4 linked regions of the Homo sapiens genome follow. The protein of the gene in region 3 purifies or fractionates together with the protein of the main gene of each other region. This does not show direct contact. Each region holds a gene or a part of one and is shown on either strand. Other genes may lie near its edges. The genes, in order: TRDN, VSIG4, RELL1 and CHIA.

What was found.
Region 1: the proteins of RELL1 (region 3) and TRDN purify together in Homo sapiens (co-immunoprecipitation; one large-scale study listed by IntAct). This does not show direct contact.
Region 2: the proteins of RELL1 (region 3) and VSIG4 purify together in Homo sapiens (co-immunoprecipitation; one large-scale study listed by IntAct). This does not show direct contact.
Region 4: the proteins of RELL1 (region 3) and CHIA purify together in Homo sapiens (co-immunoprecipitation; one large-scale study listed by IntAct). This does not show direct contact.

The regions. Positions count from the first base shown.
Region 1 is NC_000006.12:123,628,642-123,635,305, reverse strand, and holds part of TRDN (triadin), read left to right. Parts: intron 1-6,664. UniProt on the Homo sapiens protein: Contributes to the regulation of lumenal Ca2+ release via the sarcoplasmic reticulum calcium release channels RYR1 and RYR2, a key step in triggering skeletal and heart muscle contraction.
Region 2 is NC_000023.11:66,028,559-66,035,222, forward strand, and holds part of VSIG4 (V-set and immunoglobulin domain-containing protein 4 isoform 1 precursor), read right to left. Parts: intron 5,273-6,664; coding exon 4,916-5,272; intron 4,192-4,915; coding exon 3,910-4,191; intron 1-3,909. UniProt on the Homo sapiens protein: Phagocytic receptor, strong negative regulator of T-cell proliferation and IL2 production. Potent inhibitor of the alternative complement pathway convertases.
Region 3 is NC_000004.12:37,650,565-37,657,228, forward strand, and holds part of RELL1 (RELT-like protein 1 precursor), read right to left. Parts: intron 1-6,664. UniProt on the Homo sapiens protein: Induces activation of MAPK14/p38 cascade, when overexpressed. Induces apoptosis, when overexpressed.
Region 4 is NC_000001.11:111,311,351-111,314,850, reverse strand, and holds part of CHIA (acidic mammalian chitinase isoform c precursor), read right to left. Parts: intron 3,163-3,500; coding exon 3,133-3,162; intron 2,662-3,132; coding exon 2,460-2,661; intron 312-2,459; coding exon 255-311; intron 1-254.

The sequences.
Region 1 (6,664 bases), on a different chromosome or scaffold from region 3:
ATATCAGGTTTACTCTTTACCAATTTTAGTTCAGAATTTGCTAACTAAATATAAATAGCATTTTTCCTATTCCTTAGATATTCTGTGTCATGTTGCTTTTAGTTTGCCTTAAAGAAAGCTATGTATAAAAACTTCTTGTTTAGCTCTGCACAAGTTATTAAGATAGCTACGAGCGTCTTAATCTTCTGTTTCTCTACCTCTGTTCAGGGTTTGGGCTCCCAGGTGATTCAGGAGGTCAGTTGACTAAACCATCTTGGGCTTGCTTGTGGATTATGTTTTGTAGAACTTGCATTTGATTCAAAAGACTTTTTACAGGAAAATTCTTGATTATGAAATAGAGCTTTTGTTTCTGCCTTTGCTCTGCGGGGGTTTAAAAGGGCCTTGGAAGACCTTCTGGAGTTACCCATAAAAATAATTACATTAGTAATAAAATTAAAAAGTAGAAATACCATCTAATTCTTGGGTGATGGTCATTTTCCACTTCCGGGCCTTAACAGTTCATAGGATCTATGTTATCTGAACATCAATTATGCATTTTTTTTTGTTTTCTGGAATGATTTATTAATAATATTTCTCAAATGAAAATTAGACTGCCAACTCAAATGAACTCATCTTTTAAGGAAGCACAGTCATTCTTTGATGATATCCAAAGTTTTTTCACACTTTGTTACTACACAGTTTCATGTTATCTTTGCAATTCTCACCTTTTGTGCCCTAGCTACAATTGTCTTCCTCCAGTCTTTTATAAAAGGTATACCTTTGTACAGTGCCTTGGTACAGGCTATTTTCTGAGCCTGAAATAGTCTTATTTTATCTCATCTGCTATATTTTTTTCAACCATTTATTTATTTATTTTATTTTTTTTAGAGCAGAATTTTTCTCTGTCACCCATATTGGAATGCAGTGGCATGATCATAGCTCACTGCAGTCTCAAACTCCTGGGTTCCAGCAATCTTTCTACCTCAGCATCAGAAGTAGTTAGGACTACAGGTGTGCACCACCATGCCTGGCTAATTTTTTTTTTATTATTATTTTTGTAAAGACACGACCTCCTTATGTTGACCAGGCTGTACTTAACTACTGGCCTCAAGCCAAGATTCTCTTGCCTCTGCCTCCCAAAACATTGGGAATACAGGCAAGAACCATCACGCCTGGGGCTTGCAATCACTTTTGGACACATTACTGAAATGTAAGCACTCTATCAGTAGACCTATGCCACCTATCAATCAATTACCTTTTCCATCCATTTATCACGCACACACACAAAACAGTTTGTGGCACTTAAGAATATAAGAGATAACTCATTACCTTAGAAAGCTCTAGTTAACTGTTCTCATCTCAAGTTTTGGGAAGACAAGGCTCATACAGATTATATGACTGTCTCATGGTCATGGGAAATTAGGAGAGATCTGAGGATAAATTTCATGCCTCCCATGGCTCATCCCAGTGCTTATTCAACTACAGTGCATGTCGTGCCTATAACCTCACCTAGTTGCTCACATCAATTTCCACTGCAGGTTCCAAGCTGGCTTACTTCATCCAGTGGAAGAAAGGAAATAATGCTAAATACAGAATTGTGTTTCAGGTACAGAGTAATAGATAAATTAGAAATAGGACAAAGTTGAACTCCAAAGGATTTTAGGGTAATAACACCTTTGATTCTGGCAAAATAAATTAATAAAGATAATTATAACAGCAATGATAACATATTTATTCTGAAGACATAAGATGTCAAGCACTGTATTAAGCTTGATAAATATTCATTTAATCTTCAGGGCCACCAAATGAGAATAAAGGCTAATATTATTGCTGTTTAGAGAATAGGAAGCTGAAGTTGAGAGAGTTTAAAGAATGTGCTAGAATTCACACAACTGTATGTGATATAGCTAGGATTCATACCCATGCCTGACCACAGAGTCATATTGGATATGTCTTCTTACTGTGTGAGACTGTTAGGTTGGTCAATTAGGTTGTTATTGGAGCCTACACTAGGACCATGTTACATTTAGGTAGGTTGAATCAGGCCCAGACTGGATTACACTCAAACAGCACACAGGTTTAGGGCTATAAACAGTCCTTTATCTTCCTTGCAATGTAATGTATCCAAGTTGCTGGGAATCCCATATATAATTAACTTAGTATTTACTAGAACGCTTAGTTCAAGAAAGCTTTTTATTTAAAATGTTAGAAGAGCTTATATCCAACTCTCAACTTATAAACTATTACATAACCTCAGGCTTCAGGAGAAGAATTATTGCACTATGTGTGGAATTCTTTCCTTACCATTAGCCGAATCACGTTTCACTGCTTCTGTAACAATCAAACCTATGAGAAGATTTGATATTCAAAATTTAGAGCAAAAATGGTCATTTATATTCTACACACTGCATTACTCCCATAGAGTCTGCAGCACAAGATTACTCACTATTGCTCTCAAGAAAAAAAAAAAATCAAGAATTCACAGCCAGACTACTTAACAACTAGGCAAACAAGTTATATCATCTAGCATGACAGATGGTGAAATTATGAGGCGATCCAACCTATGTTTCTGCATTTACCTCATCAAAGCAAAGGGCAGCTGCCCTGGCTTAAGCGGGGATGAGCTGGGGGTACAAAGGGATGTAGCACTAGTTTCAAGCCCTGGTCACTTCCAGGAGATGTTCTTGATTTTCCTGATAAAGCAACATACCACATATATTATTTTTAGTCTTATAAGTACATTTTAAAACTGACATTAGAAAGCTAGCCTATTCAAAAGAGGAGTACCACGATGGTGAAAGGCACAGTTAAATGAAAAGATTTGTGCATGGTTTGTTTAAGTAGAAGACTGGATTTTTTCATTATGTAGCACTTGAGGGCAATGCACAGACCCATGGATAAAAGTCTGGAAGTCACAAAAAAGGCACACTATTGGCAAAATACAAGGCAAAACCCAACCAACCATTAAAATGATAGCTAGAACTGACTCTTCTGACTAGAAAGAAAGAAAAGAGAAAGCAAGAAAGGAGGGAAGGAAAAGGAAATACACAGCCTCCAATTTTTAAGAAATAGAGGGATGAGGAATATGCCAAAATCTACACCATAGTAGGCAGTAGGCTCTGGGAACCTCTACAGTACAAACAACCCAGTTACTTCAAATAAGTTCCTGGGAACAAGAACAAGAAAATCTGGAGAACAGATGAAAAGAAATGTAAAAAGTTAGCAACCCATCACAATGTATGGAATGGTTGGATCATGATTCAAACAAACAACCTTAAAAAATTCTGATGAAACAAGTGAAAATTTAATATACTCTGGATGTTAGATAACCTTAATGAATAATTATATTTTTAGTGGGATAACCGTATTGTGGTTGTCTTTTAAAATTACTTATTATTTGGAGATACACATTCAAATATTTATGAAGGAGGTGATGTGATATTTGAAATTTGCTTCTAAATAATATGCCCAAGAAGAAAGTAGTTGGGGTGTGGGTGGGGTAGGATTGGCCATTAGTTGATTATGTTGAGGCTGATAATGGGTACATTAAGTTTCATTATAATATTGTCTACTTTTGGGATTATTTAAGCTTCTTCACAATAAAGAGTTAAGAAAAAAAACAGAGTTGATGTTGTTAGTAGAGTAAATCTTTTAATAAGAATTTAATTTTCATAACATATATGGGTCAGTGAATTCTCTGGTCACCAAATTTATTCGTAAGTGCAAATTACTCTCTAAATTGAACAGTGTCTGTTGTTACTGAAATGAAAACCAAATATGCTCATATTAAGCAGAGTAGTCTGGAAATATACTTATGTTTGTAAAAGCAGACAAGGAAGTAATCATTTTTAATATCTATTATAATATGGGAATCTGGAGGTTAGTTTCATATTATTGGTAACATTAATTAGAGACATTAATTAGAAATAGTTTGTTTTTGAGATAGGTCATGGGAAAACCTGAGAACAATTTGAAAGCCTAAGAAGTCAACATGATGCAAGAAAAAATAGTTCTAAAAAGTGCTATGGCTTGGAACATTGCATTTATTGACAGGGTATTAAGTATGAAGCTTTTGTATGACTATCTCTTTGAAATATCACAAAAACTGTGAAAGGCAGGTATCACATAAACCTGATTAGTCTGACTCTGAAACTTCTTGTTATTCTTTACTGCTCAAGTTCACTTTAGGAAAATAGAAAAAAAAAAAAAAGCAGATTGTGAAAACCAGGAGAGTATAGTTCACTGAAAATCAGAGAGAAAATATAGTGCAGAGCTGGGAGAAAGAAGCATTAAGAAAAGAGAGTGTGATAGAGTAGTAAGTGCATGGAGTTTTACTTAAGTCAGAAATTGGGGTTCAGGCACTATCTCCACTACTCAACCACTCTTGGTCTGGGGAGGATGGGGCCTCAAAAGAAGGGTCATGAACTTGGTTAATTAAAAATAATATGGCCAGAGGAATTTTTAAAAATTTTACAAGATCATGCTATTTGGCAAATTAAGTTTATGTTTTTTAAATTGTTCAAATCATCCATGATACAAAATTTGCAGTGACAATGAGCAGAAAATATAGCTGTGTAGTGTCAGCCCTTGTTAGGTTCCGTTAAGAAGCTTTTTCTTGTAGTTTTTATTATTATTTGTAATAGGAACTATTTTTCTCCCCACCCCATAAGCACATAGTATCCATGAAAATGTTCCGTTTATGAGCTTAAATGTTTCTTATTTTTTTTCCTATTTATTTTTGGTTATCATTATGACTGTAATTTAAAATTCATGCTACTTTTACAATGCAAAAATGAATTGAGGCTATTCAGTTATTATACTAAAGGCTTAGGAATCCATAGAGACTTAAGGCCTCCAATACTGTTGGCATTAATTTTTAATCAGTTAACAATATTTAATATGAGAGAAACATAAAACAGTGCAACTAAGCAATTTTAAAATCATCTACATTGACCTTTGTGTTGAATATATCAATTTGAAAAGAAAATGGTTAAGATTTTCCAGTAAAGCTTTTGGTTTTATAGTTATGCTTAGTTGGAGCTTAAAGATAGTATTAAAACATTATTCTTTTCTTCTTTCAAACAAAAAGAAACCCGTTGGGGACATGTTTAATGTATTTTTAAAAAATACATATTATCTAATGTAACATATTTAAAAAGAACAAAGCAGGGGAAAAATCTTCATCTGGCAACTATGCATTAACATCATACAATAATGTCGACTTTACGGAGTTCAGGCTCCATTTTACTTAAAGTTCTAGGAAGATTTGTCAAGGTTAAGTTTTTGCTGTCTCCAGTTCCCACCTGCCCTGGATAATACGAATGACAGGCTTGGTTTTTTACAGAGAATACTTATTTGATTGTCATGTAAATATATATTACCCCTAGTGAGGGTTATGCAGAGACAGATGAACTTCCTGGTCCAAACAGATAGTAATTTTTATCTTCAAAGGAAACCAAAAAGAGTATCCTTGGCAAATGTGCAATGAATAAAGTCTTGCTCTGCTCTATACAAGTTAATGCTCTCTAAACATCAAACATCTCCACATCTCCATGCCTGAAGTGAAGCTGTCAAAGACACACAGAATTTACAATTGTGAGAGATTCTTTGGTATGTAAATGAGCTGTTTCCTCATAAACTGCAGACTCTATCTCACTTACAATGTACTTTAAATATTACATTTAAATATATGTGGTTTAGATATTTTCTAATTTGTTATCTGTGCCAGAAGCTAGGGCATGTGGTTTTCACCCAAACAAGTTAAAGACATGATATTTTGACCTATAAGAACAAAGATAATTTAAATGGAGCAACCTGTTCTTTATAGGGGAAACTTGGTTTCATTTAGACAGCATGAAGCTGGAACTCATTGTGACAAACCAGTTTTATCTTTGCTACGCATTTGCTGCATCATTCTCCCCTCCCTGACACAGGTTACTGAAGTGTTGAGAAAAACAAAAGAAGGAAAAACTCTTAGTATTTCAAACTTAGTTTTAATATGGTCTAGGGCATTAGTGAGCTCGTGGATGTGAGAGATTCAGTTTCCATTTATACAGACGTTCAAAATACATATTTAGCAAACTTTCCTTGGAAAATTGTCTGTTGCCTTTGAAAATAAAATTATCATGTGATTAGGGGAATTTTCTGTTTGAGGAAGACATTTAATATAATGTCAAGACAAAAATAAGAGATATGAAGTGGCACTTCTCTGACATTCACTGCTGGAGCTATTATTTTTGCCCATGGTTATTCTGATTTAACCTATATATTATTGACTAGGGGAAAAAGCGTACTGTAAAATCTGAAAGTTACTACAGTATAGTAAAATGCCAAGTTTGTGAATTTAAATCTGCAGAAATATTAGGCATTGCATTTAGAAAAAGGCAAGTTACCTCCATCTGAAATATAACAAAATTTTAGATTCTATGGTATTAATTATCATCCTAGATGTAGATTTATGAAGCAGTATGTCATGCCAGAGGTTTGGTTTTATTCAATATTTTAATACCTATTACGTACCAAATTGAATGCCTGACAATGTGGACACAAAAATGAATGATAAAAGGTCCCTGCTACATTGCAAAACAAAAAGAAAAGAGCAAAAAATAACAGTGAGAATAAAGACTGGACAGATTATAAAACATTTGATTCCAATTTGAATTGCAGCCATGTCTCTTTTTATTGC
Region 2 (6,664 bases), on a different chromosome or scaffold from region 3:
TTTTTTTTTTTTTTTTTTTTTTTTTTAGAATTTTGCAAAATAGCCAAAGGTTTGCAGCACCTTAGACAGGATTTATGGAAGAAAAATATCCCAGTTTTGGTAAGAACAGCAAGCTTTGTGCTGTTTTAACTTCTCCTAGTCCCCTTACCCCTTCTACCTCAGAGGTAATCTTGAACATACAACCCCATTCCAGGTGCTGGAGTGAGCCCAACAAACTTCATTTTTGAATAATTGCCATTATTTGGCCTGTCTGGTGGTTCCCTGAAAGACCTGACTCAAAAGACTTGTTTTATTGGTCACCCAGTGCTAAGAGCCTCTCCCCAGGGATGGGGTAGCATTTGTCACACAGCTGCCTGAGGCAATGGATAATAGGCGAGAAAACAAAAAAAACTAACCAAAATAGCCTTAAAAATGGTTGAGGAATAAGATTTCCATAGGGATTTTGAAGAGTTCTGACACAGTTCTGGGAAACTAGGAGGCCACACACAAGCACAGGGCCATGTACCTGCTCAGAAAAGACATGAGAAAACCATAAGCTTCTCCCTCTTGCTAGCAGAGGAAACAGCATGCTCCGTTTTAGATGTGGCGAAACATATTAGTAGATAAGTCTGGATAGGTAGGCTGAAAACAGACTAAAAGGGTTTGGGCTTTGTTCTTTAGTTGGAAAGATCCATGGGGTGTAACAGAAGGTTACACCTTTTGAGAAAGGTTTACTTCCTTTTGAGAAAGGAAGCAAAAATTGTTCAGTCTATTTTTTTTGGAAATAATTCTGACAACAGTGTGGTAGGATTTTCAAAGGTAAGGCAATAGCATATTTTCCCCATTCATTAACAAATACAGTATTCATCTAGTGTCTAGTGTCTTCTTTGTGCCAGATACTTTGCTGGGCTCTGAAAAACAGCAATGAAGTAGACAGGTAGAATTCTGCACTCTTGAATTTTATAATCTAGTGACATAAAATATATACTCAATAAATATTGAATAAGTTGATGACTTCGTAAGAATGTATGAACATGGGGAGAACATTTAGAAGATGATTGAAATTGTTTTTTAAAAAAGAATATGAGACCATGAGGGTATAGGAAGAGAAAGAAAGAGCCTAATAAGGTATCTGATTCAGTAGGTGAATTCACAGCACTTGGTAATATTGATGATTATTTGACGATGCGAGGTAAAAGAGAAGGAGGAGTCAAAGGTACTGCTATGTTTTCTAACAGGTTTGAGGAACAGGTTTGGTGAGTAAAAGGTACGATCAGTTTTGAACACGCTGAAATTAGAAATGAAGCTGTCCAGAAGGTAACTAGACACTGGGATCTAGCAGTCAGGAAAAAATAAATACAGATAATATTATGGTTGGAGAGTCATCAGACTACAGGTGATATTTGAAGCCACAGAAGTAAATAAAATCTCCTGATAATATAGAAATACATGCAGAGATGAATAAGAATTGAGTCTTTGAGAACATTTACAATTAAGGAGTGAATGAAAAAAGAGCCAACAAAGGTGTCTCAGAAGGATCATTCAGGAAGGTCTTAGAAGAACCAAGATAAGTTGGTGTCATCAATAGCAGTGATTAAAAGAATATTGAGGTGGAAGAAATGGCCAACAGGATCCACTGCTACACAGATGTTGAGGAGGAAAAGTATGAATGGAGAGGTCTTGGGATTTGGTGATATGGAGGTTAATGATGACCCCAAATTACAAAGTTATGTTGTGGTGAATGAATTGAGAGGTTCAGCTGGTGGAAGCTACCTTCGTGAGAAGGTTGGTAGTGAACATAGGAGAGATGAGGTGGCAGATGGAGAGAAAGATTTTTGAAAAATAACATATATATATGTATGTATTAGGCTTGCATACTGACATATATACATATATTATACATGCATATCTATTTGGCTTAGGTAGAGGATAAAGGGTATTGCAGGGCATTGGAGTAGCTGATGTTAAGAGTTCAGGAGGAGGGGCTTGTTGTGGAGAGGAGCAAAGCATACCTTACTCTGAGCCAAGAGGAAATGGATAGGGAAATATCAAGGCAGAGAGGAGGGTAGTTGATAAAATTCACATATGAAGAGGGTCTGGACCTTCTTACAGAGGAAGGAAGTTACCTTATCTTTTAGGAGCAAGGCTGGGGGCCTGAAATAAGGTAGAAATGTGCTGAAAAGCTGCTATGAGGAATGAGACAAAGATAAGCAAATAGACACACGGCATGGGGTCAGGCAGTACATATCGCAGAGCATAAAATTCAAGTGGAGTCAATTCATATCTGTGTTTTGTTTTGTTCGTCAGCAAAGCTCAGCAGTCCAAGAACATGAGCAAAAGCAGGGCCTCCAGAGTCATTCTAGAACTAAAGAACAGTGCAGAGTGAGGTGGAAGGGTGAAAGGGCTGAGAGTTCCGTAGGGCAGAGGTGAAATAGGGGGTCAGACTCAGGGGACAAGGTTGGGTGGACAGGGAGGCAGGTAGAGGTAGCCAGGAAAGATTACGTTGGCTCACAGAGCAGGGAAGAGTGGAAGGCTGAGAATAACTTCCCTGAGCCTCAGTTTTCCTATCTGTCAGTAGGGGGCAATGGCGAGCACTGCTTAACAGCACTGTAATAAGCATTGACTGTGAGAAGGAATAAACAGGAGGGTTTACTGTGAGCAAGTTCTTGCCTAGGTGGTCTGAGAAGTAACTCACAGAAAGGCAAGAATGTTCAATTAGTCTCTTTATGAAGTATACATTCTTGGGCTTTCTGGTCACGCCCTGCCCTCTCTGCTTGACCAGACTGTCAGCTCTTAGAGAACTGGGACACTGTTCATATAACTTTCAGGGCGGACCACTCTTGTTCCTCCCAAAACTAACAAACCATGATCTACAGCACACACATCCTCACTACAGCTTAACTTTGGGAAACAAATTCCTCCAGGCAAACACAAGAGTCTCAAACCAACATCAGTCTCCTAGCCCAAATGGTAATAAGCCATTTGGGCTAGGTTTACGCCCTCTCCTTACACAGAACTATCCTCAGAAGACAATAATTTTCAGATGGTTCTGAGGGCAATTCCCTAAAATCAGTTAGTTTCCAACATGTTTTGGGCAATGGTAACCTTGTTGGGGTGTCTTTCTTTCCAAGGAGATCTCTTGAAAGCTAAGAAAACTCATCTGGACATATCACTGCTGGACTCTTCATTTAAGCCTCAGCTTACAGTCTTTATATGCATAGTTTGTAGTGCTCCCAGGACAGTGCTGTAAGAAATAGTCAGATCTTGATTAACAAGAGCCCATCTTAAAGGATACTTCAACCAGAACTTGTATTTGGGTTTACAATGAAGTGGGGGAGGGAAGTTAAAAGAAAGCATGTAGATATATTAGATCAAGCCTAATCAAACAAGCAAAACAATAACCAAACAAACAGAACACACAAACAAAAAACAACAGCTTTCAAAGGGTGCCCAGGATCTGATATAGATTCAACCATGAGAAACAATCAGACATAGTAGGAAGAGCATGAAATCTGAGTACAAATCCAGATTTATACTTCCTTGCTGTGAGACCATGGGCAAGTAGATTCCCCTTTCTGACTCTGTTTCCTCTTCTGTAAAGTAAGAGTAATGATAACTATCTCATGGGACAGTTGTGGGGATTCAATGAGAAAATGTGTGTCAAGTTATTGTACTTTGTATCTGGCAAATACAATGTGCTAGTAAATCTCTCTTTCCTTTACCGTCTTTATCTACTTAACCTATGGCATGATAGGCAATGTCTCTATCCCTGTTGTCCCCAGTCCAAGTTTTTTTTCTTTGTGATTGTACAACCATTGCCTGCTTGGGATCCTCCTCTCCCAATTCTTCTTTTGCATAAGGGCACCTTTTGAGGTATCTTTGTTTCAAGCTTGTGTGTTAAGATGCTCACCAGGAAAGAGGGCCGCTCACCTTTGACCACAAACTTCACAATGTCGCTGTGCTGCTCAGAGCCAACCTGGCCCTTGGCAGTGCAGAAATAGGAGCCTGAGTCGGCTATCACCGCAGGCTTGAAGAGTAAGGTACTTAGGGTTGCTACTTTGATGGGTTCCTGGTTATTAGTCTGTTGCTTATACCAAATATAACTGATGGGAGGAGAACCCCGAGCCTGGCATTGAAGGCTAATCCTCATTCCCTGGGGCACCGTGAAGCCATAACCGCTGCCAGTTGTCACTGTGGGCTTGGAGACAGAGACTGCAAAGAAAAGACAAGACAGGAAACTCTGGGCAGTCATAAGGATATGGGACCAAAAGGCTGAATCATTCTTGTTGGGCGTAAGGGCATGCATATATCTGCAACTGGAACTAAAGGGGGCTTCTGACTTTGGAGGAAATAAGAAGGAAAGGGCAATACAAATAAAATGGCTTCCTTTGAAGGTAGGTACTTTTTGGTATTACCCGGGGTTTTGGAATACTTGGAAGTAAAAATCAACTGACCTTTAAAATTAATGTAGTTTGTTCTGGGGCTCAAGTAGAGCTTTTGATTACCTGCAGTTGTGGATTATCAGGGCCAGACTTTTGTAAAATTGTCCAGCAAGCAAACTTATCCTGGCTAACCTCTGCCTCCCTTTCCCCAGAGCTTCTCTATCAGCATCTATCTACAAATTAAATGTACTCATTTTTGAGTTGTAAAGCCCAGAGCCCAAGGAGGGTAACTAGTCCATGGATACTGGCATTTCTGGGACACTCGAAGGGATAGAGATTTGCAGGTCAGGAACCCTTCCCAGCACTTCCTAAATTTAACTATGGGAATGCTGACCCTAAGAATCCTCTGCCTGTCCACTTCCTCTGATAAGCACATATACCTGTGGAGAGCCTCTGTATAAACGAAGGCCTCTGGATTTTTCAGGCTTTTCTAGAATTACATCCACTATTGATTCATTGATTATCAGTGCTTTCCTACCCCCATAGTGACTCACGTTTCTGGACACGGAGCTCAGTAATCTTATCTCTCACGACTTGGTTGCCATCAGGAGTCTGCCAGGTGACTTCACACGTGTAGTGGCTCCGGTCATCCATCTCCAGGGTGCTCAATTGGAGGGATACATCTCCTGGAACCTTGTGGCTCACATGCAGGCGGCCCTGGTACTTTGCCTGCTGGATATGGTCTCCAGAAGAGTCACGTAGAAAGATGGTGACAGGGTCTGAGCCACGTTGTACCAGCCACTTCACCAAGACTTGGGTGTAGCCTTGCAGGGGGTCATAGGTGCAGGGAAGATTCACATCCCCTTTCCAAGGTCCTGTTACACTCTCTGGCACTTCCAGGATGGGACGGCCTGAAGAGGCGGAACAGAGGAAAGAAGCAAACGTAGATGGCATACCTACTTGGCAACTAAGGTGACAGTGACAAACCTCAAAAGGTTTCTGAGAAATGCCACTCAACTTTCTTTCTATCACACTTTTGTGTACCTGTGCCCTTTTGCTCTTTGCCAGCCTTCTCATCAATCAGAACCAGTCTTCAGAATGAAAGCCTTTAACATTGTTTAGATCTTGTGAGTTTCAAGTCCTTTTTATGTTACTGTCTTGCTATGAAGGTGATCCTAGGTAAGTCACCTTCTTACCGTGGAAGATTCATTTACTTCATCTATAATGTGGAGAGTTTGGGTGGTAGGTGCTCTAGATATTCTATCAAATCTGTCATTCTGCAAATCCATGAAAAAATTTTCTTTTCACATTTTCCAAAAGAGATGTGGAAGCAAAAATGCTAAGCATTTGGGTCTGGACTATTTCATTTTGTGTAAATTTGCACCTGGAGAAAGGTGGAGGCTTTTGAGATCAGCAAGAAAGGGCCCTCTGCCCTGTTATCTTCTCTTGTTCCCTTAGAAATCCTCAGTGAGTGGGGTCCCAACCCTAAGATGTTCTCTGGAAGACAGGCAAAAGGAAATACTGAGGGTGGAACCAAGTGTGAGGAAGAAGTCTGGATACACATTCCTGTTTAACAAAATCATTAGCTATTGTTAAATTCAAAACCTGCACTTTGTAAACCTGACTTTTTTTCTGATTTCTTTTGTTTATTTTCCTTTTGGTTTCTCTTAGTTCTTAGCAAGGATACATAGGAAAATTTCATCTTGAGGGGGAAAAGATTGCATCCATTTTTGGTCTAGAGAGGAAAAGGTTCTGAGTGAAATCCTGAAGCTGGCTGTAGTAGGGGTGGTGATAGAAGCAATGGGAGATTGCTCCTTGGCGTGTTTGAGAAGGAAACCCTTGGGGATGGGGGTGGGGGTGGGGAAGGAGGTGGGGATGTTGAAACAGCCATTGCCTCCCATCAGAATTTTCCATCCATAAGCTCTTATTTAGAAGATTTTTTGTTTTATTTAGCTGGGGCCAGGAGTGTGGGGTGGGTATATTTAGGCAATATATTCATGTCTCTCCTAAGAGAGGTGGTTTCAAAGATATGAGGTATTCCTGAATAAAAGTCTTTTATTGAGCCTAGAAATCCCAGTATTCAGTCAAGCGGATGGAAGATGACATCTTTTGGATGGGTTGAGTGTATGCGTTCTAACTCCCAGAATATACTGTCCAGCATCAGGACTTCTGTTAATAGAGATATAAAATCAAGCCTCTAGCCTGTGCCCTCACCAGGGACCCTTAGAACATCAATAGCATATTTTAGTCAAGAAAAAGCCCTTGAGTAGAAAAGAATAAATAACATAAGTCCATGTTGCTAG
Region 3 (6,664 bases):
AAAGAACAGTGGGGATCTACTTTATGACTTCAAGAATAGGGAAGCTTTGAAGTGGGCATCTTTTGGAGAAAAGGGAAGTTTTTGCCTTTAGACATGTCAAAGTATCACATGAATATATATATGAGAGACAGTTTGATATCTTAGCCTGCAGGGGTGCCACAGGGACTCCAGAAAGCAGTGAGCCTGGAGCACACAATTATACAATGTGGCCAACTGAGATCGCAGGAAGAACATACTTTGGGAGGCTGAAGGGGGTGGGGGGAGGGGGCGAATCACTTGAGGTCAGGAGTTCAAGACCAGCCTGGGCAACATGGTGAAACCCCGTCTCCACTAAAAATACAAAAATTAGCTGGGCATTGTGGTACACAACTGTGGTGCCAGCTACTGGAGAGGCAGAGGTGAGAGGATTGCTTGAGCCTGCGAGGCAGAGGTTGCAGTGAGCCAAGAAGTGCACCACTGCACTTCAGCCTGGGTGACAGAGCAAGACTGTCTCAAAAAAAAAAAAAAAAAAATTAAATTAAATTAAAAAGTATTAAAAAGTTAGCCTTATATATGTTCCTGTCACACAGTAAGCACTATAAATGTGTTAGCTACCACTATTAATATTTAGGCTGGGCACAGTGGCACATGCCTATAATCCCAACACTTTGGGAGGCCAAGGCAGGCGGATCACTTGAGGCCAGGAGTTCAGGAAGAACATACCGTGTAGCAAAAGAATCAGCAGAGCACCATGCCATGGAAAAATGAGGAGAGAAATACAAAATGAAGAGGGGAGTCAGGTAGATGAGGACCAAAGAAAACTGTGGGGTTTGACTGAAACAAAGCTTCAGTATTTGGAATATCCTGACTCTGAAAGGATAAAGTGAGGTTTTCTACATCAAGGGAGGTTCACACACACTGCTCAAGAAACCCAGAAATTGGAAAGCTAGAGACATTTAAATATAAGCTTTCTCAAGAGAATTTTGGTGAGAAAAGAATCCGTATTGTAATTGAGAGTGGCAGGAGGCAGTCAAATGCCCAGGCAGACAGGGTTGGGTCCCTGGTGAAACCCCACCTCCATGCTGAAGAATTTTAAAGCTTGAAAGCCAAGCTACAAGTTAAATCCTCGGACCAGATGGAGGACTTGTCTTCCTGTTTGGTGCGCTTTCCTCACAAACCAATCAGCACTCACTCCCCATTCTGAGTCCATAAAAGGCCCCAGACCCAGCCACACAGGAGGAACTTCAAGTAGAACCATTCCCCCGAGCCCCACATTGCCTCTCTGCTGAAAGCCATTTTCATAGCTCAATAAAATTCTTCTCCGCCCTCCTCACCCTTCAGTGTGTCGTGTATCCTCATTCTTCTTGGGTGCGCTACAAGAGCTTGGGAACTGCTGAAAGTGGGTACAAGCTATACCACAGGGGAGCTGAAGCACGCCAGCGTGGCCAAGCAGGGCGTCGAGGCTGGGGCAGAGCGTCGCCAGCCAGGAGGTCCCCAGTTTACAAAGTGACCGAGAAGAAAACTCCTGCATCATAATGATTATAATGGGGACAATATGCCTGGTATGAAATGAGCACGGTTCATCACAGCAGCAAACAAACAATATCAAACAGAAGCTTTATTTGCAAACCAGAGGCCATAGAACAAAGACTACCTCTCTTTCGCATGGAAATATCCATTGTCTTTGAACATGAAAGGAAATAATTGGTTTCTTAGGTTTGTAAGAGGTTGCATTCATTACTTTATCAGACAACCTCCAGAATTTGAAATAGCCAGTGTTTTCTGATTTCTCCCTGAAGAATCAATATAATAAATACATCCCTAAATATATGCAATATACCGTCTAAGTTAGGGTTTAACCTCATGCCTTATTTTCAGGAAAAACCAGAAACATTTATTTAATCCCTTTTATGGTCCTAAAACAATGTTTTCTTTATTAATTCCTTTATATAACACATATTCCACGCAACAAGAATAGGTGAAGTAGGCAGCATGCTGAGATCAAGGAGCTTTACTCAGAATCACTGTCTGTTTCAATCTGGGGGTGAAAATAAATTCTTTTTTAGGGGGACAATGGGAAAGAGGGATGAAAGAGGGGCTCAGAATTGGAGTCAAACACCTCCCTCTGAATCAGGTGATTGAGAAGGTGTCTTCATCGTGAATTTGACATGTGGCAACCCCTAACAAACACTAAATATCTACAGAGCTCTGTGACTTACAAACATGTGTCATTCACTTAATTTCATAATTATCGTGCCATGAAAAAACTGAAGATATTAATCTACATTAGTGAAGCATATAAATTACAGGGAGAGGCAATATAGCACTCAGATTAAAAGCTCAGACCTGGCAGAAATAACAGACATGTTATTGGCCACATACTAGACATGTCACCTTAGGCGAGTAATTTTAACTGTTCTGTACTCTGTTTCCTCTCTGTTAAAAGGATCAAAATGAGTGTGACTAATCTGTGATAATTTTACAAGATGGCCCTGGGAAATAAAAATCTAATCTCAGACCCCAATTTACTATGCCAAAAGGAAAAAATTAAACTGAAAGCTGAGTCATTCAAGAAATTGCGTTTCCTTTTGTTCTTAGGCAGATAGCTACTGATAAAAGGTGAAGTATCTGCACAGGTAGCTACTCCATGCTCACCTTATCTTAGGTAAAGTGCTGACTGACTGACATAATTGACTATTACCCTGCCCGCTCCTTTTCCCTTGCAACAGGTAGATTCAGTAATGTGAACATCTGCTCCCTCTTTCCCCTTGTATTGAAACCTCAATACAAGTATTGAAACCTCAATACAAGTATTGAAACCTCAATATTCAATACAAGTATTGAAACCTCAATATTCAATACAAGTATTGAAACCTCAATATTCAATACAAGTATTGAATACTCAATACAAGTATTGAGTATTGAAACCCTCAAAATCTTCTTAGGAAAATGGCATGAACCACAGATTGTTCCTGTGGATTTGAGATCCTTTTCTCTGGACATGTCCTTAACCTTTGCAAAATAAACTTCTAAATTGACTGAGACCCGTCTCAGATACTTTTTGGTTTCCAGCTTCAAAATTATTTGATACTGCTTCTACTGAGAGGTGAGGTCTGTATCTCGTCCCCTTACATTTACACTCTACTCTCCCTGACCCACAGAATGTGTTGGGAATGATGCATTATCACTTTCCAGCCTCAGGCAATAAGAAACTGACAACTTCCACTTCCTGTTTCTTGGGGCACTTGCTCTTGGAACCCAGCCACCATGCTGTGAGGAAGCCTAAGCTTCCCTGTGGAGAGAAAATAGCAGGCATCAACTTATCAGCCAGTAATAGCCATAATAAAAGTAGATCCTATAGTCCCAACTGATGCTCCATGGGGCATCAGAGCTGTCTCTGATGAACCCTGCCCAAATTGTATAACAAATCCTTAAACAAAAGAAATGATTGTTGTTTTCACCCACTAAGCTTTGGGGTTATTTGTCATACAGCAATAGTAACTGGAAGCCTGCTGCATGGTGTCACTGTGAAGATTAAACAATATTAATATGTAAAGCATTCAGAAGAGTGTCTACAAAAAGGTGGGCACTGTATTTTAGTCATAATCATAAAAGACCTGCATTATTCAGTAAGATAGCCACTAGCCACATGTAGCTATTTAAATTCAAATTTAAGCCAAATGAATTTAAATAAAATTAAAAATTCAGTTCCTCAGTTGCATTAGCCACATCTCAAGTGCCCAGTGGCCATGTGTGGCTAACTGCTACCATACTGGACGGCCCAGATAATGAACATTTCCACCATCCCAGAAAGTTTTTTTGGACAGCCCTGTTGTGCATTATAAAGAATAGCTAACAAGAAAGATGCAGAGTGGAGAATATATTGTGATCTACCTTAACAATTCAATGAAAAATAGCTTTTAAATAACAAAGTAACTGTTCATACATAATGTCTAAAACATTTATAAACTTCAGTAGGTTTAGCTTTCCTTCAATTTACACTAATAATTTGCTGAGAAACACTGTATCCCTTCTTCTCCTTCACCCCTAGCTGAATCATGTCTGAATCACGAACAAGTTACTTAGTCCAAATAGCAAAGGTTGTTGCATTATTTATAAAAGTCAAAAAATAGCAACACCTGCATATTTGCAATGAGATAGTAAAAACATATCTAAATCATGGTTTCATTTGATGAAATAATATGCACTATTTAAAGATCTATGAAATTTTTTGTGAAGATACAGGAAAACACTATGATCCAATATTGAATTTCAAAAGCTGGATTCAAAACCTTACATGCAATATGATCCAACTAGTTTTTTTAAAAAATAAAAACGCATGAAGGTATAAAGCCAAAACCAAAATGCTAAGTGATTCTCGGTACTAAAATAATGAAATAAATTTAATTTTATCTTTATACTTTTCTATAACTTTCTAAAATTAGTATGTGGTACTTTTGTACCAAGATGGTAGACACTTTAAAAAGTATGTAGAGCAGAGGCTGTTAGTCATTTGAGAGTCACAAACCCCTTTGTGAGGTCTGATGGATGCTAGGATTCCTATTTCAAAATTTTGCCTCCCGGTTCTGTGACTTCTTGAACCCAAATTAATGTAAGGGCAAGTGATGTAATAAAAATGACGTCCAAGTTTCTGCTTGAGCAACATAGTGGACATTGGACCCATTCATTGTGATGGGAAATATATATATATATATATAAAAAGCAAGTTTGCTTGGTGTTATGGTTTGAATTTTGTCACCCCCTCCTAAATTTATATGTTGAGCTCCTAACCCCCAATACCTCAGAATGTATTTGGAGATAGGATCTTTACATAGGTCATCTAGTTAAAATGAAGTCATCAGGGTGGACCCCAGTCCCATATGATTGGTGTCCTTCTGAAAAGGGGAAATGTGAAGAAAAAGGCAGAGATCTGGATGATGCTTCTTCTACAAGCTAAGGGACACCAAAGATTGCCAGCAAATCACCAGAACCCAGGAGAGAGGCATGAAACAGATTCTCTCATAGCCCTCAGAAGGAGGAAACTTTGCTGACACATTCCTCTTGGACTTCTCTGTTGCTGAAACCACCCTGTCTGTGGTACTTTGTGAGGCAGCTCTAGCAAACGAATTCACTTGGCATCTTGAGGACAATGTCACAGTTCAGTTTTGAACACGCAGAAATAGAGGTAAGCAGGTGACATCCAGATGGAAATAGGCATTGAGCAACTGGATCTGCTCCACTCAGAAGCTGAGGAAGAACAGCCAGAGCTCCAGTCTAGGACAGAAAGGAATGAGTTTCCAGAAGAGGTAAGTGGTCAGCTGGGTCAGATGCTGTAAGAGAGCACAACTAAAATACGAAGGAACTGCAAAATGGTGCCGCTGCTATGCTGGATAGTATTAAGCCTTCTCGAAAGGTTAAAAATAGAACTACCATGTGATCTAGAAATCCCACTTCTGGGTACATATCCAAAAAAAGAATTGAAATCAGGATCTTGAGGAGATACCTGCACTCCCATGTTGTCTGCAGCATTAGTTACAACAGCCAAGATGTGGAAGCCACCAAAATTCCCATCGATAGACAAAGGGATAAAGAAATCGTGGCATATGAAAATGGAATATTATTCAGCTTTATAAAGAAGAAAATCCTGCCAAATGTGACAACATGGGTAAACCCTGAGGACATTAGGCTAAATGAAATAAGCCAGACACCAAAGGACAAATACTATACAATTCTGTTTATATATGGTATCTAAAATAGTCAAACTCATAGAAACCAGAGAGTAGAATGGTGTTTGCCAGGGGCTGGGAGGGCAGGGGAATAGGGATAGTTGATGATCAACAGGCACAAAATATAAATTTTCAGTTACACGAGATTAATAAGTTCTAGAGATCTCACAATACTGTATTGTGCACTTAAAAATTTGTTCAGAGAGTAGACCTCATGTTAAGTGTTTTTACCATAATTTTTAAAAACAGAGAGAAGGAAAGAAACAAACAACCTGCTATAGTTTGAATATGATCTGTCCCCTCCAAAACACACGTTGAAATTTGGTCCCCAATGTAACAGTGTTGAGCTGTAGTGGGACCTTTAAGAAGTGCTTGGGTCTTGGGGACTCCACGCTCATAAAGGAGTTAACGTTGTTCTCACAGAAGTGAGTTAGTTCTCATGGGAGGGGGTTAGTTATTGGGAGTTTGGATTGTTATAAAAGCGAGTTCAGCTTCCTCGGCACTTTCTTGCTTCCTCTCTCACCATGTGATTTCTTCCATTTTGTCACTGATGTCATGAAGCAGCAAGAGGCCCTTACCAGATATGGCTATCCAATCTTGGACTTCCCATCCTCCAGAACTGTGAGCAAAATAAACCTCTATTCTTTATAAATTACCCAGTCTTAGGTATTCTGTTATAGCAACAGAAAACAAATGAAGACACAACCCAAGAGAAATCTTTAGAAAGAGGCTTGAGAAGAACTCAGATAAATCAGGCCACACAGAAATTCCTAAGAACACATGGGAAACCTTCAGTTTCTAATTTAGGAGCAGCTTGGGATTTTTTAACCTTTCCCTTCTTGGATTTTGCTCCCTGTTTCTCTGTAGTTTCCTGAAGTAAACATTCTTTAAAAATTCTAAAGATAAAGTAAAATAAAAAAGGAAATAAACAGGCAAAAATAAAATAGAAAGAAAAACAA
Region 4 (3,500 bases), on a different chromosome or scaffold from region 3:
GGTTGTTTGGGAACCTCAGTAAGTAAACCTCTGTGGATAGGGCCCCCAAATGTCCACCAAATTAAATGTATGAAATAAATTGTGTTCCACTTAATAATGAGGTTCTGGTGTAGCAATATATTTAATTCATATATTTGTTTATGTACATCCTCAATACCCTGTCTTAGATTGTGAAGTCTAAAGGGACAGTGATCACATGGGGCTAACTTGTTTTCCATAGCAAACGAACAACATGCTCTCCATAGAAGACTTACGGGGCAGTCCCGAAGTTCCAGCCTCCAATGGCCAGGAGAGTTTTCAGCTGGCTGTTCCTGTAAAACAAAGGATAGAAACAGATAAACTTCAAAAGTCAGGACTCCCTCCATTTAAAATACATTGCTTTAGTGTTGGATCTGGTCAGATATTTTTGTTTTGCCTTTTGTAGAACAATTTTCCTCCCCTACTGAAAACTTCCTTTATAAAAATTCTTTGTGTTGTTCCTGTCATGAATGCACTCAGGGTTCCCTAGGGAAATCTAAATTTTGAAACTGGGCTTTAAAAAATATTGTGTGTTGGCAGTATCTTTGATTGTGTAAGTTTAAAAAACATGAATAGCTAATATAATATTCTATTCTATCAGATAAAATGGTAAATGTTGCTTGAGCTTAATTACATTTTTAGCCTCTGTAATGTTAAAATAAATTAATTGGCTTGAAATTATACACATTCTCTTGAATAGAGATTCCCAAACATTAACATACATAATAATTAAGTGCAAGGGTTGTGGGAGGACAACATGAAAAATCTGGGTTTATCGCCCCTTCCCCTGAGATTCCAATTCGGTTGGATTGCAGTAGGGACTAACACTTACTCAGGTACCTCACATGATTTTGAGGCAAGTAGTCAATGGAGCACACTTCAAGAAACACTGCCGTAAAGGAGTTTATTTACTCTTAGTCATTGTAACTTAAATTCTAGTAGCTGTATTCACGATAATGCCATTACTGATAGTAGCAATCACCTGTAGCTTTCCTTCTCTTAAATATGACTAAACTGAACAAAGTCAACTCAGAATGGATTAAAGATCTAAATTTATGACCTCAAATTGTAAAACTACTGAAAGAAAACCTTAAAAAAAAGCTCCAAGAGCTACAGCAAGAATTTTTTGGATATGACTGGAAAGTGCAGCAACAAAAGCAAAAATAGACAAATGGGATTACATCAGGCTAAAAAGCTTTTGCATGACAAAGGAAACAGAGTGAAGAGACTACCTATGGAATGGGAGAAAATAGTTGGAAACCATATGTCAAGTAAGGAGTTAGTTAGTATCAAAAATATATAGGAAATTTATACAACTCAGTAGTAAGAAACCAAATAACCTGATTAAAAAATGGGCCAAGGACTTGAAAAGACATTTCTCAAAAGAAGACATACCAATGGTCAACAAGTGTATAAAAAATGCTCAACATCACTAATCATCAGAGAAATACATATCAAAATCAAATGAGATACCACTCAATCCGCTTAGAATGGCTGTTATCAAAAAGATGAAAGGTAAGTGTTGGAAAAGACATGGAAAAAAAAGGAACTCTTGCCCACTGTTGGTGGGAATGAACATTAGTATACCCATTATGGAAAATAGTATAGATGTTCCTCAAAAAATCAAAGAAATAACTACCATATGATCCAGCAGTTACACTACTGGGTTTACATCCAAAGGAAATGAAATCAGTGTGTTGAAGAGATATCTGAATTTCCATGTTCATTGCAGCACTATTCACAGTAGCTAAGATGTGGAATCAATCTAAGTGCCCCTCAATGGATGAATGGACAAAGAAAATGTGGTCTTTATATACAATGAATACTATTAAGTCTTAAAAAAGAGGCAGAAATCCTGTCATTTGCAGCAATATGGATAAACCTGGAGGATATTATGTTAAGTGAGATAAACCAGGCACAGAAAGACATATACCACATGATCTCACTTATAAGTGGAATCTAAAAGAAGTTGAACTCATAGAAGTATATAGTAGAATGGTCGTTAGCAGAGGCTGGGGGTGGTGTGGGGATGGGGGTTGGGGGGCATGTTGGTCAAAGGATACAAAATTTCAGTTAGAAATGAGGAATAAGTTGCAGAGGTCTATTGTACAACATGGTTACTATTGTTAGTAACAATATATTGTATTTTGAAAATTGCAAACAGTACATTTTAAGTGTTCTCACCACAAAAAACATTAAGTATTTGTGGAAATGCATATGTTGATAGTTCGATTGAGCCATTCCGCACCGTATACATATTTCAAAACATTACATTGTCCATAGTAAACACATACAATTTTTGTCAGTTATAAAAGAAAAATGAAATGCAGAGTCTTGGTCCCCATCTCAGATCCATGGATCTGAACTACATTTTAAGAAGCATTAATGTTTGGGAAGTACTGAAAAAGGGGATGCCAAATTAAATATCTCCCTCATCCTACTTATTTTTCAGGCCATTGAAAGCTTGGTAGAGAGTCACATCATTCCATTCGATGGTGGTGATCTCGTTGTTCTGCCTCCCAGCAAAGGCGTAGATCAGGTGGGTACAGAGGCAGGGGTCGATGTTGTCAGGCATGAAGCGCCCCAGGCCTGGCCGGTACTGGGCCCAGTTGGTGAAGTAGCATGTCAGCTGGTAGGCAGAGCCTGTGTGTAGTCAGCAGGAGGGACAATGGCCTGGTTTAGGATCCACTGAAGTGTGCTGTGAGTTTTGGCCTTGCCTCTGTTTCCCTCCCTGTGCCTCAGATGCCTGATCTCTGTGTGGAGGTAATTAGTATGAACACTCTTGCAAATGCATCCTAAGATTCTAACTCAGAACTGGTCACTAACTTGGAGTTGTTTATTTTTAACTTTCACAGACTCATTTTGGGATTTTGGATAAGCCTAGCTAGCAGCCTTCTAAGAAAAGATGCCCATAGTCCTATGAAGCCCAGTGAGTACCAGTTTATAATTCAGATGGTCATGCTGAAGAGGATAGCAGTGACAGCCAATCCAAAACACTAGATTACTCCCAAATCAAACCCATCTGTCTGTGAAGCAAACAGCGGCTCTCTTTCCATAGTATGGTTTATCTCGTATATATACATTCAATGATAAAACATGGAGTCCATGACTTACCGAGCTGCAAATTCAGTATAAGGACAAGACCTGGATAGAAAGAAAAAGCATGTACTTTGAACCGATTGTCTGTACCCCGTAGAATCTAATTCTGAAGGATTGATTGCCTTCCAATTTGCCATAAATTGTTACAACCTCAGTGAGATTTGGTGGTGATTCCAAAGGCTTTTCAGTGAATACAACAGTAGATCTACCTTTCCCCACCTTTATCAAAAATGACCGTGGTACCTTCGTCTCACACCTTTCTTGTCACAAATAAATGTTCCTGAATGCTGAGTCCGAAGTTTACTATCTATGGAAGATGTACTTACTGAAATCACCAACTGATCACTGTAGTCAATGATGACACATCCATTCGTTCTTCCCCT